Linked DNA regions of Homo sapiens: region 1 is linked to region 2. The links come from fine-mapping of genetic effects on gene expression. Tissue or cell type: lung. Region 2 holds a variant in brackets; the other region holds the start of a gene. All regions are shown on one strand. Distances are between the middles of the regions.

What was found. PIP is the estimated chance that this variant, and not a neighbour inherited with it, causes the effect.
Region 1: CCT6B starts here. The variant in region 2 is fine-mapped to the expression of CCT6B in lung (TOPMed, PIP above 0.99). The same link has a PIP of 0.9 or more in atrial appendage, gastroesophageal junction, stomach, subcutaneous fat, sun-exposed skin and tibial nerve.

Annotation. Positions count from the first base shown.
Region 1 is chr17:34,956,948-34,965,200 of GRCh38, reverse strand. It overlaps CCT6B (chaperonin containing TCP1 subunit 6B), which reads left to right and starts at 3,741. Exons shown (of 14, transcript NM_006584.4): 1 at 3,741-3,944; 2 at 5,551-5,614; 3 at 6,507-6,641. The coding sequence starts at 3,808. It overlaps ZNF830 (zinc finger protein 830), which reads right to left and starts at 3,661. Exons shown (of 1, transcript NM_052857.4): 1 at 1,424-3,661. The coding sequence starts at 3,634. The coding sequence ends at 2,516. RefSeq lists enhancers at 3,368-3,617, 3,698-3,777, 3,828-4,047, 4,148-4,197 and a silencer at 3,917-4,211.
Region 2 is chr17:34,932,100-34,940,352 of GRCh38, reverse strand. It overlaps CCT6B (chaperonin containing TCP1 subunit 6B), which reads left to right. Exons shown (of 14, transcript NM_006584.4): 9 at 640-736; 10 at 1,023-1,170; 11 at 7,853-7,986. Among named protein-coding and RNA genes, the nearest start is that of CCT6B, 25 kb to the left of the region's middle. The variant A/C (reference allele first, on the strand shown) is at 4,949.

The DNA of each region.
Region 1 (8,253 bases), 25 kb before region 2:
AAAATGTAAAATTTATCTATGGCTTGCATTATATTTTATTTTTTTACTTTTTGAGACAGGGTCACACTGTCACCCATGAGGGAGTGCAGTGGCACAATCACAGCTCACTGCAACCGCCACCTTCCCTGGCACAGGTGATCCTCCCACCTCAGCATCCCAAGCAGCTGGGACTACAGGTGAATGCCACACCTGGATTATTTGTTTATATTTTTTGTAGAGATGGGGTTTTGCCATGTTGCCCAGGCTGGTCTTGAACTTCTGAGCTCAAGTGATCCACCTGCCTCGGATTCCCAAAGTGCTAGGATTACAGGCATGAGCCACCACACCCAGTCGCATTTTATCTTTAGTGGACAGTACTCCACTAGATTGTTGGCCAAGGCAGTACTGGGCCCACCATTCAAACCCATATTTGTACTTTCTTGCTAGAGTAATAGTGATGAATGAAGGGAAAATTCTGAGTAACACTGGGTTCACACATTTGAGGCAAGCAAGCCGTGTCTCATCAAATAGAAGCTGCTATCACTGATCAGCTAGCAGCTCAAGGAGGAAGACTGCCAAAGGCAGCAGGACAATTATTAATAATAATTTGTGGTACACAGCAACTGTTCAGTAAGTGTTAGATAACTCCTTTTAGGCAGTGACACTAAATACAAACAAAATCTTGAATCCCATACTTATCCCTCCTGTTTTTCTTCTTCCACTTCTAGTCACTAAAATTTAGCTATTCTGGCCGGGCGTGGTGGCTCACGCCTGTAATCCCAGCACTTTGGGAGGCCGAGGTGGGCAGATCACGAGGTCGGGAGATTGAGACCATCCTGGCTAACACGGTGAAACCCCGTCTCTACTAAAAAATACAAAAAATTAGCTTGGCGTGGTGGCGGGTGCCTGTAGTCCCGGCTACTCGCGAGGCTGAAGCAGGAGAACGGCGTGAACCTGGGAGGTGGAGCTTGCAGTGAGCCGAGTTTCCGCCACTGCACTCCAGACTGGGCGACAGACCGAGACTCCGTCTCAAAACAAACAAACAAAAAAAACAAACAACAAAAGAATTTAGCTATTCCTATGACATGCTTTCACTTCTATTCCTTTTCTCCCAATCCTCAGCTAATCAGTCTTGTCACCTTGCTTTTGAAAATATAGTTTTCAAATAGCTCCTAGCTTCCTTCTACCCTCCGTGTTCATTCCATTCTATATACTGTTAATAATGTCCCATGATACTTCTTTGCAGATGTAATTCTTTGCTCAAAACCTCCATTTTCATATGAACTTCATCAAAAATTTTCACTTAGCATTCAAGGCTTTTCAAACCTTGTCTCTTGGTACTCCTCTCCATAAAAAAAGACTTTAGGGAAACTAGATTGAGTTAATATATGTAAAGCACTTAGAACCATGCCTGGCCCATACTAAGAAATATATAGGTCTTAGCTATTATTATTATTGCTCACTTTTATTTGAATATGCTGTATGCATTTCAACTCCAGAACACTGCTAATTCCCTTTTCCTATTTGAGTACCTCAATCTCTAAAGGAAGGAGTGATTTAAACTATCAATGACCAGCAAGAGCCAATTGTTACTGCTGGAAAGACAACTTAAATATTCTTTCTACAATAGATAGGACCTGCAAACAAGGAACCCTAATTTACCACCAAATAACAAAATTTAAGGCTGGATGAAATAAATAAAAGATAATATTTTTTCCTTCATTCAAGAAACAGCAAATTTATGGAATGTGTTATTTAAAGAAAAAGAAAAAACCTGAAAAACATAAATGGGTTCTGGATTTAGGGCAGTTACTCTCTAACCCTGGCATATATTAGAATAACCTGGGTGCTTAAAAAACACAGTTGCCTGGGCCCAATCCCAGATTTATTGAAGGGGAAGGCCTCAGACACTTTAATTATTTTAATGCTTCATAGGTGACTCTCATGTGCAACCACATCTGACCATCATTGGTTTGGTCATGTTTGGCATATAGTTTTCTTATGTTTTTAAAATAAAGCACACTAAGAGAACTGATTAACCTACAATGACTTATGTGTTTATGAAGTGTTCTAAAAAACCATACAAAAACCAAAGAAACAAGAAAACAAACCTTTTCAACTTGATGTAGGGTTCAGAAGATACATACATTCCAAATACCACAGTAAGCATTCATCTGAAAGTTTGCCGGTTGGTCTTTCTATTAATTAAAAAAATTCAAAACAGAATACAGATTTAACTATGTACAATATTTACAACTTACAGATTTTACAACGAAATTATACAGTTAAGTCTGTCGTGGAAATGTTGGCATTTTGGTATATAACACTTCAGAAATTTCAAAAACAACTTTACCTCAAAAACATGTTACACAAATTTTCCAAAGTGCTGTAGCTCACTGGCTCATTTTATCTCAACAATCCAGTTTAGCAATCCAGGTACCCAAATCTTGAGGCATGAAGTAACCGCTATACTACTGAGAGACAGCACTTTTTATACAACAGCAGAGGCTGTTAGAAACCTTGGGTCTTTAAAACCCTATAACAATGCCCCTTTCACCCTCCAATCCTGAGACAACAAATCCTGTAGTTCCCCCTCATCATCGCTGTCAGCATTCTCTTCTTCCTTTTTCTGCAGTTCTTTTATGGTCAGGATTTCTTTAAGTTTATTTTTTATTTCATCCTGGCGATTCCGTAGCTTTTCCACCCGTCGGTAACACTCTATCTGCTCATCGATCTCCCCAATCTGGCGGTCCAACCGTCCCTCCTCATCCTCTTCGGCAACTATGGCTTCGGAAATAGTGTTGACCTGCCTCATGGCTTTTTGGAATTCGTCCCACTCTTTGTCCATCTGATCTTTTGGAGCATCAACCTTTCGTACTCTTGCATCTACCTCAGGGTCGTCAAAAAAACCTTCCGGTAACGCTTCCGCGGTGTTTTCTCTCCTTTCCACCACTTTTTCATGTATTTCTGCTTTCTCAATTGACCCTGAATGAGGAATTATGGGGGCCTTGGGAGGATTAGTACTAAAGAAATCGTTTGGCAGCACACTACTTGTTACCTCCCGTGAAGAGGAAACTGAGTGCTCCTTGCCCTGTGCGTCGGAGAGCGGCTTGCTGGCGTCCCCCCTTTTTCTTTCTCCATCTCCTTCCTCCTCCTCTTCCTCCTCCTCCTCATCTTCATAATCGGGGAGTAAACTGAGTCCTGAAGGCTTACTGGGAGTCGCTCTAATGAACTCCTTTCCTATTTTGTCAAAGTTGGTGGTCCACGCAGATGTGGAGGGCTGTACCTGAGGCACCAAGGTGGCCTTCGCTCTCTTGACATCTTGGTCGTCTGCGTCCGGCGCTTTCCTCTTGACGGAATGAGGCGCTGAACTGGCGGACGAACCCTGGCTGGCTTCCTTCGCGCCTTTCAGCTCGGCCACTTTCTCTCGGTGCTGCTTTCCCAGGACGTGAGTCTGCCACAGGAGCTCGCTCTTAACCGGAGTGTTACACAGGGCACAACTCAGCTGCCCCAAACGGTTGTACTTCGCGAATGGAGATTCTATCCGTTTCCGACTGGTGCTCAGACGCTGCTTCTCCTTCATTAACCGCCGCAATTCTTCCTGATTTATCACTCGCTTCCCTGCCGGAGTCCGGGCGGAGGCGGAGGACGCCATCTTGGCGACCAGACCCAAAACGATTCTGGTTTCCGTCGGGCGAGGCATGATAACGTCACTTCCTGTAAGGGCGATGATTGGCCGAGGCTCAAGAGAGCGTGGCGTCGCATTGCCGTTTTTGCTCAGAATCGCGACTAAGGCTTTTTTTTTTTCTCCCTCTGAACGGTTAGGCTATGGCTGCGATAAAGGCCGTCAACTCCAAGGCTGAGGTGGCGCGGGCCCGGGCAGCTTTGGCTGTCAATATATGCGCCGCCCGAGGGCTGCAGGATGTGCTGCGGACCAACTTGGGTCCTAAAGGCACCATGAAAATGTGAGACAGCGGTTGGAGCGGCCATTACGCGGCTAGGGGCCCGTTGGTGTCCTGTCGCCCTCTGAGGCAGGCGTCCGCGTAGCGCTGTGGATGTTCTTGCGAGCTTGATTTCCCTCATTCTCATCCCTGCTCTGGGGGTATTTCTCGCCTGGTGCAGGTGGAGGAGAAAAGCCTCCCCTAGTAGAGGGCCCCGGGAGTGAAGCTGTGGCGCTTCCCCGACCCCCGACTTGTCGTCAAGGTTCATATGCAGTTAGAAAGTCAGTTAATTTAGTGTCTCATTGGAAACAAAGCATTTAACTCCTCTGCTCCTTAAGACTGTATACCCTTGGTCCATAAATTCAACAAGTAGTTTTGTTTTTTGTATGGCAATGTATTGTAGTGGAGAGGACACAGGCTTTGGAGCCAGGAAGGCATGGGGTCAAATCCAAGTTCTACTTGAATACCCCGTGTCTATGGTTGTTCAGATCTATTCATCTTTTCAGTATATATTAAGCACCCTTTTCTATAGACAAGAGTGAGGAAAAGAGACCAGTGAGGGCAAAAGGGTATAAGAGGAGAGACACATCCTCATAGTAATGAACAAAATAATATTAATGGTAAAATAAGTCACTTAGGTACCAGTTGTTGGGACACAGAAATGATCAAGATAACGGTTTCTGTTCTTAAGGAGATGTGGTAGAGACGGATGTGGTAGAGTAGGATGTGCTAATTATATATAGATGCATATAATTATGCTGAAGAAAGGGACTGATGGCAGAAGGAAAAGCATCTTAAGTAACATGTTTGATCAGTCTTGAAAGAAGAATAAGACTTCACTAGTTGGAAGAGGGAGTAAAGGCCTGGGCAAAGTAATTTCAGGAATAAGAAAGACCAATGGTGCAAATCCAACAGAAACGAAACAAAACATGGTATATTAAGGGAACCAGAAGATTTGCTTGTGGAAAAGTAGATGAGGCAGGGAAGATATTGGGAAAGGTCAAGTATGTCATTGCTGTGTTTGGATTTTAACTTGAAAATGATGGAAAACATAAAAATCATTGGAGGACTTTTGATCAGGGAACTGACTGAATCACGTTGCCTTTTAGAAAGAAAAATGTGTGGAGGGTATATTTAAGTTTGGAGATATCCGGATGCCATCCAAAGTAGAGATGATAACAGTGGAGATGGAGAGAAGGTGGCAGATTCAAGAGATATTTAGGTAGTAGAATTGATAGAACTTGGTGATCTAATAAATGCAGGGATGAGGGAAACTAAGTTGAGTGACTGAATGAATGAAAACATTCACCAAAATTAAAACCTGCAGGAAATTTGCGAATTTGTGCTTTGTAGACTTCCAAGTATTCTTTGACCAAACCACAGTTCGTAACTCATCAAGTGCTTTTATCTTTAAACCTGTAAATAGTCCATTTGGAATGAAATCTCCATAATCTGTCCATCTGGGGAGAAATGATTCTGTGAGCTGCAAATGGTGGTAATTACCATGGCATATTCCCATGGTACAGTGGAAGTTTTCCGAGCCCAGTTCCCTCTATTAAGGATAATGGAGTGGCAAGCACTGGGAATGTCTTCCTACCACATGAAGTTAATATCATTCTTCTCTGAACAGGCTTGTTTCTGGTGCAGGTGACATCAAACTCACCAAAGATGGCAATGTGCTGCTCGATGAGATGGTGAGCTGATGCTGCTGACTTTAATAAACCTTAATAAGCCTTAATTAGAAGCATAGTAGAACTTGTGTATCTTTAAGCCAAGGCTGTGAGCTAAATACTGCAGTCTTGAGATATGCTGAAGACTGTTGAATTAGACCTCAATAAAAAAATTTTTTTGGCCGGGTGTGGTAGCTCACTCCTGTAATCCCAACACTTTGGGAGGCTGAGGTGGCCAAATTGCTTGAGCCCAGGAGTTCAAGACCAGGCTGGGCAACATGGTGAAAACCGTCTCTACAAAAAAAAAAAAAAAAAAAAATTTTGCTCAGTGTGGTGACATACGCCTATAGTCCCAGCTACTCTGGAGGCTGAGGTGAGAGGATCACTTGAGCCCAGGAGGCCAAGGCTGCAGTGAATGAGATTGTGCCATTGCACTCCAGCCTGAGTGGCAGAGTGAAACCCTGTCTCAAAAAAAAAAAAAAAAAAAGTTTTTTTTTTTGGCTGTTTCCAAGTCTTTGTATACTTATACATACTTTGTATACTTAGGCATACTTATAAATCAATAATATCTTTTAAGGGCACTGCCTTATGTTCTTTGTAATTATGGAAAAATAAAAATATCCTTTGCAAGTTTAATACATGTATTCATTTTGAGATTGAATGATTTAATCTTATTTTAGAAATGTCATTGCATTCTGAAGCAAAGACTTTTATGAAATGTTCAGGCCTCATTACCTGTCACTTTTAAAATTTTGGACTTGACATTTAGGTATTGATAATACAAAACTTGTAAACTTGTAGAATGAAGCTTATTTCATTTTTTAATTTTGCTACTGACCCCTAGGTTATCTTGCTTTTGGTGACCTACTTCCTTATCTCATCCTGTCTTTTTAAATCTGTTGCTTGCTTTTTCCAGCAAATTCAACATCCAACAGCTTCCTTGATAGCAAAAGTAGCAACAGCTCAGGATGACGTCACAGGAGATGGTACTACTTCAAATGTTCTAATTATTGGAGAGTTATTAAAACAAGCTGACCTGTACATTTCTGAGGTATTAGAATTTCACAGTTTATATGTTATTTTGAATGGCAAATTATTTTTTTAACTAGTAAAATGGTTGAGTTTTAGACAGTTAATTTTGTTTTAATTAATTAATTAATTAATTTTGAGATGGAGTCTCACTGTGTCGCCCAGGCTGGAGTGCAGTGGCAGAATCTTGGCTCACTGCAACCTCCGCCTCCCAGGTTCAATCAATTCTCCTGCTTCAGCTTCCCGAGTAGCTGGGATTACAGGCATGCGCCATCATGCCTGGCTAATGTTTGTATTTTTTTTAGAGACAGGGTTTCACCATCATGGCCAGCCTGGTCTTGAGCTCCTGACCTCAGGTGATCCACCTGCCTGGGCCTCCCAGAGTGCTGGGATTACAGGCATGAGCCACCGTGCCTGGTCTAGACAGTTAATTTTAATTAAGATATTCTTGGACAATTATAAATGGAAATAATAATGAACTTTGTTGGCCAAAATAATGCCTTTCGTTGGAATTATATACCTCTTTTAAAAATGAAATATTTAACGGACCTAAAAAAGTAAAAAATTACCCATGTATCCATGGGTAATTAAGAAAGAAAACACCATAGATAAAGTTGAAACCAAATTATGCACCTTTATAAAACCACTGGAGAAAAATTATTGAAGGTTTTACTTATTGTGAATTTACCTTCCTTTCTAGTTTCATTTTCTTTATAAATCATCTACTTCAGCCAGACTCCTCCGTTCACTGGCCTCTGAAAACATCATGTACATTTTTACCTTTCTCTAATTAAGTATCTCTTTTCTCCATATCTGAATGTTTTCTCTCTTTCAGGGACCATTTCAGCAAAGAGTAACCTAGTCAAAATGATTCTCTGTGTTTCGTTTAGTATTGGGAATTTTCTATTAATTCAGTACTTGCAACTTAGGATGCTTTTGGCTGTAAACAACTTGACTAAAACTCACTTGAACAATAAGGAAATGATTATCTCCCATAATAGAAAATTGAGAGATAAGGGAGACTGTCAGGTTGTGTGATAACAAAATTCAGTCATCAAGTACACAGGTTCTTTGTCTCTTACCTCTTCCACTCACAGTGCTGTTTCATCCTAAGAGTATTTCCATCTTGAAAGTAAGAGGCCAGGTGCGGTGGCTCACACCTGTAATCCCAGCACTTTGGGAGGCCGAGGCAGGTGGATCACCTGAGGTCGGGAGTTCGAGACCAGCCTGACCAACGTGGAGAAACCCTGTCTCTGCTAAAAATACAAAATTAGCCAGGCGTGTTGGTGCACGCCTGTGATCCCAGCTACTCAGGAGGCTGAGGCAGGAGAATTGCTTGAACCCAGGAGGTGGAGATTGCAGTGAGCCAAGATTGTGCCATCATACTCTAGCCTGGGCAACAAGAGTGAAACTCCATCTCAAAAAAAAAAAAAAAAAATGGAAAGAAAAAGGAAAGAAAAAGAAAGTAAGACTGGCTGGGCACAGTGGCTCATGCTTGTAATCCCAGCACTTTGGGAGGCTGAGGCAGGAGGATCACTTGAGCCCAGGAATTTGAGACCAGCCTGGGCAACATAGTGAGACCCTGTCTTTAGAAATAATAAAAAAAAATTAGGCTTGGTGGCATGCTGCATGTG
Region 2 (8,253 bases):
AGAACTTTGTTGAAGTATAAGGAAAGTTTTTATCTTTTTAAAACAGATTTTAAAAACAAAACAATACAACATAATACAGCATGATCTCACTTTTATATATGGAATCTAAAAAAGTTGAACTCATAGAAGTAGATAGTAGAATGGCGGTTACCAGGGGCTGGGGCAGTGGGAGGGGAGGGGCACTGGGAATATGTGGGTCAAAGGATACAAAATTTCAGTTAGTTAGGAGGAATAAATTCAAGAGATCTATTGTCCAACATGGCAACTGTAGTTAATAACAATATATTGTTCTTTTTAAAAATCTTTTGCAAACCCACCCGAGAATGCACAATGTGTTGGATTCTTGAAAAATGCTGAGAGTAGATTTTAAGTGTTCTTATCACACAAATGGCTAAATCAAGCCTCACATAGGCAATATGTATGTTAATTAGCTCAATTTAGCCATTCCACAGTGTATACATATTTAAAAACATCATCATGTTGTACTCGATAAATATAGACAATTTTATTAGACAATTAAAAACCCAAAACAATACAATACAGTAACAATACAGTCTTCTGCATTAGATATCTTCTCTCTGAGAAATTAGTATTAATGTTCTCCATAATCAAGCTATGGTGACATATATGTAATTTCAGACTCTCTCTTGCTTGTGGTGGAATGGCCGTGAATTCTTTTGAAGATCTCACTGTAGATTGCTTGGGACATGCTGGTCTTGTGTATGAGTATACATTAGTGAGTATTTCTATGAACAGTGGTTATAAAGTGAATACTAAGCCCCCTTTTTTAAAGAAAAATACTACTTGACCTTTTATTTCATGTTTTGTGTTTTGAGATCTAATTCACAGAACAGATTTTACAGTTTATTTACCTAAATGTTTGTTAAGAGTTCAGATATAACTTAACTCCCTTAGTTATGCTTGATAAGAAAAATTCAAATGAAGATTGTATTCTAGTATAAATTGTTGATTTTATAATGACATCAAATATTAAAGTTATATATTTTTGTGCCACCCTTTAGGGTGAAGAAAAGTTCACTTTTATTGAGGAGTGTGTTAACCCTTGCTCTGTTACCTTGTTGGTTAAAGGACCAAATAAGCATACTCTCACACAAGTCAAGGATGCCATAAGAGATGGACTTCGTGCTATCAAAAATGCCATTGAAGATGGTAAGCTCTTTCTTGTGATTGATATGAACCTCATGTATATGTGTGTATATATGTATATATATATACACACACACCTATGTATGTATATATGTATATTTTTAGACAGAGTCTTCCTCTGTTGCCCAGGCTTTAGTGCAGTGGTGCGATCTCAGCCCACTGCAACCTCTGCCTCCCAGGTTCAAGTGATTCTTCTGCCTCAGCCTCCCAAGTAGCTGGGATTACAGGCACACACCACCACACTTGGCTAATTTTTTGTATTTTTAGTAGAGATGGGGTTTCGCCATGTTGGCCAGGCTGGTCTCGAACTCCTGGGCTCAAGCGATCTGCCCTTGTTGGCCTCCCAAAGAGCTGAAATTACACGTGTGAGCCACCATGCCTGGCCTTTAAGTCTTTTTAAATTTTATTTTTATTATTAATCTATTTAATCTATTTATTTCTTTTGAGACCAGGTTTTGAAACTGGCTAATTTTTGTATTTTTGGTAGAGATGAGGTTTCACCATGTTGCCAAGGTTGGTCCTGAACTCCTGGGCTCAAGGGATCCACTTGTCTTGGCCTCCCAAAGTGCTAGGATTACTGGCATGAGCCACTGCGCCTGGCTGCAAACCTCACATATATATATTTTTCTCAAGACAGGGTCTTGCTCTGTCACCCAGGCTAGAGTGCAGTGGCACAATCATGGCTCACTGCAGCCTCAAACCCCTGTGCTCAAGTGATCCTCCCACCTCAGCTGGACGATAGGTGCATGCCACCACACCTGGCTAATTTTTAATTTTTTTTTGTAGAGATGAGTTCTGTCTATGTTGCCCAGGCTGGTCTTGAACTCCTGGCCTCAAGCAGTTTTCCCCCTTCAGCCTCCCAGAGTGCTGGGATTTGTAGGCACGAGCCACCACATTCAGCCCATGTTGAGCATCTTTTAATGTGTTTATTTGCCCTTTGTATATCTGGTGAATTTTCTGTTTAAATCTTTTGCCCTTTTAAATAATTGGATTGTTGGCCATGCACAGTGGCTCTCACCTGTAATTCCAGCACTTTGGGAGGCCAAGATGGGAGGATTGCTTGAGCCCAGGAGTTGGAAACCAGCCTGGGCAACATAGCAAGACCATGCCTCTACACACACACACACAAATAGCCAGGCGTGGTGGCCTGTACCTGTAGTTCCAGCTACTTAGGAGGCTGAGGCAGGAATATCACTTGAGTCCCAAGAGTCTGAGGTTACAGTGAGCTATGATCACACCACTGCACTCCAGCCTGGGCGTCAGAGTGAGACCCTGTTTCCAGAAAAAAAAAAAAGAGAAGAAAAGAAAAGAAAAAAATTTGTGTTAGTATACTATTGTTGAGTTTGAGAGTTCTTTGTATATAATTTGGGTACAAGTGCTTTTTCAGATATATAATTGGCAAATTTTTCTCCTCTGTGGCTTATTTTATTATTAACAGTGCCTTTCAAAGAGAAGTTCTTAATTTTGATGAAGTCTAATTTATTATTTTTATTCTGTCATGGATTATGCTTTTGGTGTGGTATCTGAAAAATCTTTACCTAACCTAGGGTCATAAAGATTTTCCTCTAAAAGTGTTACAGTCTTATGTTTTACATTTAGGTCTGTGATTCATTTTAAGTTAAATTTTGTATATGGTGCAAGTATGGATACAAGTTCATTTTTTTCATATAAAGGTATCAGATTGTTTTAGTCTTATTTGCTGAAAAGACTTTACTTTCACCACCGAATTGCCTTTTCTCGTGTATAAAAAATCAGTTTTTCATATTTGTGTGGTTCTATTTCTGTGCTCTTTTTTCTGTCCTACTGATGCATTTGTCTATTTTAATGTTAATATCATACTGTCCTGACGACTGTAGCTTTATAATAAATCTTGAAATCAGTATTGTTAACTCTCATTTTTTTTTTAAGTTATTTTGGTCATTCTAAGTCTTTGGCATTTCCATATGACTTCCATATGAATTTTAGAATCAGCTTGTCAATTTCTACCAAAAAGACTGCTGCTGGGATTTTGATCAGAACTTTTTTTTTTAGAAAGGATCTTACTCTGTCACTCAGGCTGGAGTGCAGTGGTGTGATCATGGCTCACTGCAGACTTGACCTGCTGAGCTCAAGTGACTCTCCCACCTTAGCTTCCCAAGTAGCTGGAACCACAAGCATGCACTACCATGCCTGGTTAATTTTTTTTTATTTTCTGTAGAGACAACGTCTCATTATGTTGTTACCCAGGCTGGTCTCAAACTCCTGGGCTCAAGCGATCCTCCCGCCTTGGCCTCCCAAAGTGCGTGGATTACAGGTGTGAGCCATTACACCCTGCTTGATTGGAATTTTATTAAATCTGTAGACCAATTTGGAGATAGTTGATATTTTAATAATGAGCCTTCTAACTCATGAATATCATCTTATCTATTTGAGTCTTCTTGAATTTATCTCAGCAATATTTCATAGATCTTAGTATATGAGCCTCACATACTTTTTTCCATATTTATCTCTATATATTTTATGTATTTTGTTGCTATTGTATATGCTATTTTTAAAATTTCCATTTCTGATTGTTAGTTGCTAATATATAGAAATATATTTTATTTTTGTACATTGATCTTGAATTCTGCAACCTTGCTAAATCACAATTAGCTTTCTTATAGGCTTCATTGAATTATCTATATAAGTGATTACATTGTCTGCTATACAGTTATACTTTTTGCTCTCCAATATGGATATTTTAAAATTTTCTCCCTTATTTCATGGGCCAGAACCTCCAGTATAATGTTGACTAGAAATAATGAGAATGGACATCCTTTCCTCATCGCTGATCTTAGGGGGAAAGCATTCAATCTTTCTCCATTATGTATGATGTTAGCTATAGGTTTTTATCAGGTTGAGGAAGTTCTCCCTTCTGCACCTAGTTTGCTGACAGTTTTTAATCAAGAATAAATGCCAGGCTGGTCGTGGTGGCTCACACCTGTAATTCCAGCATTTTGGGAGGCTGACGTGCATGGGTCACCTGAGGTCAGGAGTTCAAGACCAGCTTGGCCAACATGGTGAAACTGTCTCTACTAAAAATAAAAAAATTAGCTGGGCATGGTGGCAGGCACCTGCAATCTCAGCTTCTCGTGAGGCTGAGGCAGGAGAATTGCTTGAACCTGGGAGGTGGAGGTTGTAGTGAGCCGAGATCGTGCCACTGGACTTTAGCCTGGGCGACAAGAGTAAAACTTCTTGTTGTTGTTGTTTTTTGTCAAAACACACACACACACACACACACACGAGAATAAATGCCAAATGCTTCTTGTGCATCTATTGAGATGATCATATGATTTTTTTTTTTTTCTTTTGAGATGAAGTCTCACTTCGTTGCCCAGGCTGGAGTGCCATGGCGCAATCCTGGCTCACTGCAACCTCTGCTTCCCAGGTTCAAGCGAATCTCCTACATCAGCCTCCTGAGTAGGTGGGATTACAGGCATGCACCACCATGCCAGGGTAATTTTGGTATGTTTCAGTAGAGATGGAGTTTCACCATGTTGGCCTGGCTGGTCTCGAACTCCTGACCTCAGGTGATCTGCTTGCCTTGGCCTCCCAAAGGTCTGGGATTACAAGCCTGAGCCACTGCACCCAGCCCTCGTTTAGTTTTCTCGTACAGTAAATTACATTGATTGATTCAAATGTCAAACCTTACATTCTTGGGATAAACCATACTTAGTTATAATGCATTTTACTTTTTAAAAAATTAATGGATTACATTTTTTTAAAATTATTTTTTAAATTGTGATAAATATACATAACATAA[A/C]ATTTACAGTTTAACAATTTTTAAGTGTACAGTTCAGTGTTAGTAAGTGCATTCACAATGTTGTCTAACCATTATCACCACCCATCTCCAGAACTTTTTTTCCTTGCAAAACTGAAACTCTGAACCCATTAAACAATATCTCTCCATTCCCTACCCACCTCCCCAGCCCTGGGTAACCACCATTCTACTTTCTGTCTCTATGAGTTTACTCTATGTATCTCATATAATTGGAATCATACAGTTTTTGTCCTTTGTCTGGCTTATTTCACTTTGCATAGTGTCATCAAGGCTCATTCATGTTGTAGCATGTGCCAGAATTTCCTTCCTTTTTACCATTGAATAATATTCTATTGTATGTATATACCACATTTTATTTGTCTATTATTGGAAACGTGTTGCATTTACCTTTTGGCTATTGTGAATAATGGTACTATGTGTATTCTCCTTTTTATGTATTATTTGATTTAATTGGCTAAAATTTTGTTAAGAATTTTTACATATGTATTCATAAGGGGTATTGGTCTGTGTATATTTTTTCTTGTAATGCTTTTATCTTTTTTGGTGTTAGAACAATGCTGTACTCATAGAGTGAATTGGAAAGTTTTTCTTCTTGTTCAAATTTCTGAAAGTGTAAAGTTGTTGTGGAGAATTGGTATTATTTGTATTATTTCTTTCTTAAATGTTGGTAGACTGTCAATAAAGCCATCTGAGCCTGGAGTTTTCTTTGTGGGAAAGCTTTTAATGACACATTCAATTTTTTTAATAGACGTAGGGCTATAAAGGTTTTGTTTTTTTTGAGTGAGCTTTAGTGGTTTGTAGTCTTTCAAGAATTTGTCCACTTCATCTAAGTTAGGATCATCAACTACTATCTATGAGCTAAATCTGATTTGCTGCCTGTTTTGGTAAATAAAGTTTTGTTGGAATGTGGCCATACTCATTTGTCTATATATTGTCTGTGGCTATTTTTGTGTTACAGTGGCAGAGTTGAATAGTTGGAAAAGAAATGGTATGGCCTGAAAAATATTAACTGGCCTTTTGCAGAAAGTTTACTAACTTCTGATCAACAGTTTCAACTTTATTGTCATAAAGTCGATCATAATATTCATTTGTTATTCTTTTTAATATCTGTAGAATCTGTAGTGATATAAATTTTCTCATTTCTGACATTTGTCATTTGACTAATTTCCACTTTCATCCTAATTATTTCCTTTCTTTTGCTTATATTAGGTTTCATTTGTGCTTCCTTTTTTAGTTTTTTTTTTTTTTTTTTCTTTTTGAAACAGAGTCTCGATCTGTCACCTAGGCTGGAGTGCAGTGGCATGGTCACGGCTCACTGCAGCCTTGACTTCCCAGGCTCAGGCAGTCCTCCCACCTTAGCCTCCTAAGTAGCTGGGATTACAGGTGTGTGCCACCAAACCTGGCTAATTGTTGTGTTTTTTGTAGAGATGGGGTCTCACTGTGTTGCCCAGGCTGGTCTTGAATTTCCGGGCTCAAGTGATCTACCTGCCTTGGCCTCCCAAAGTGCTGGGATTATAGGAGCGAGCCACCAGACCCTGTCCTTTTCTAGTTTCTTAAGGTGGAAGCTGGGGTCATTAGTTTGAGAACTTTCTTCGTTCCTAATATAGGTGTTTCGTGATATAAATTTCTCTTTAAGTACTGCTTTAGGGATGCTAAAATTTTGATATGTTGTGTTTTCACAGAGAATGGGATCAGGGAAGTTTTCAAAGGTTCTAGTAATCTCTTTCTTAAGCTGGGTGGTAGGTACATGGATACATTTGTTTATTTGTGCATTTATTCTTTATATCATACATATAAATATTCTTTTGAGTATATTCTGTATTTAACAAGGAACTTTTAAAAAATGTGAATGGGAGGTAATGATGTAATCATCTGGTGGGTAAACAACTCTTTGAGCGGTTATGTTGTGAAGTGAAGCAGTGAAAGGGGGTAGTAATTTTAAAATGATGTGAGATAAAAGGGGAGATTGTTTTCGTATTGTTTTGTTTTAAAGCAAGTTTTCTGATTTAAATAAGAGTCATAAACTTTATGAAACCATACAAGTAGCAGATATAAAAGTGATATCCTGATGTGAAATTTGATGTGTTTAACCAAAACTCTTGCTTTAGAATAATACCACTTAAATTTTTTCTTAGATAGCAGTTTGAGTTCTGCTGCAGTACAAAAAACAAATACTTCATTGAGTTCCAAGAATTCCCTATCAAAAACTAGACAAATGATCTTGGTCTAAAGAATTTTCATGTCAGATATTGTAATCAGTTACCTGTCAATATAAATTATAAATACCTCTTAAAAGTAGTCATAAGGCCGGGTGTGGTGGCTCACACCTGTAATCCCAGCATTTTGGGAGACGGAGGTGGGTGGATCACTTGAAGTCAGGAGTTCAAGACCAGCCTGGCCAACGTGGTGAAACCCCATCTCTATTAAAAATACAAAAATTAGCTGGGTGTGGTGGTGCACGCCTGTAATTCCAGCTACTTAGAAGGCTGAGGTAGGAGGATCACTTGAACCTGGAAGGCAGAGGTTGGAGTGAGTCAAGATCATGCCACTACAGTACAGCCTGGGTGATGGAGTAAAACTCCATCTCAGAAAAAAAAAGTAGTTATAAAAGAGTAAGATGAAGGTAAAAATAAATTATTCTTGTTTACCAGAGGGTAAGGAGCAAAATAAGCTGTTTGCAGCCAGTTATCTGTACTATGCCTATTTATTTAATGACATATAACTTCAGGATGTTTCATAAGATAACTGAGTAATTACTAAGCTGTGCAATTTATTTGGTTTCTGTAGATAATAGAACATACTTAAATAGTGAATTGCTTTTCTGTCTCTCTCTCTCTTTTGGTCTTTATGGCATGTCTTGCCAATCATATTTTTTCTCTCCAATAGGTTGTATGGTTCCTGGAGCTGGTGCAATTGAAGTGGCAATGGCTGAAGCTCTTGTTACATATAAGAACAGTATAAAAGGAAGAGCTCGTCTTGGAGTCCAAGCTTTTGCTGATGCCTTACTCATTATTCCCAAGGTACAACTACCCTTTCGGCCAAATAACAACTGCTTAGACATAAAGGTGTTTAATTACAAATTGCCCATATTATCTGATAGTTAATGGAGTAGACAGGTATTTATGTGCATTTCCTTACACAGTTTTCTCTTAGATATTTTACAACTAAAGCAGGGAAACTTTTGCGATAACAGCCCAGGATCCTTGCACGATCTCATGAAATAGCCAACTTACCCCCTTGCTTCTTTCTCTGAGTTCCAAAAATTAAAGCAGCTCCAAAAATTTCCT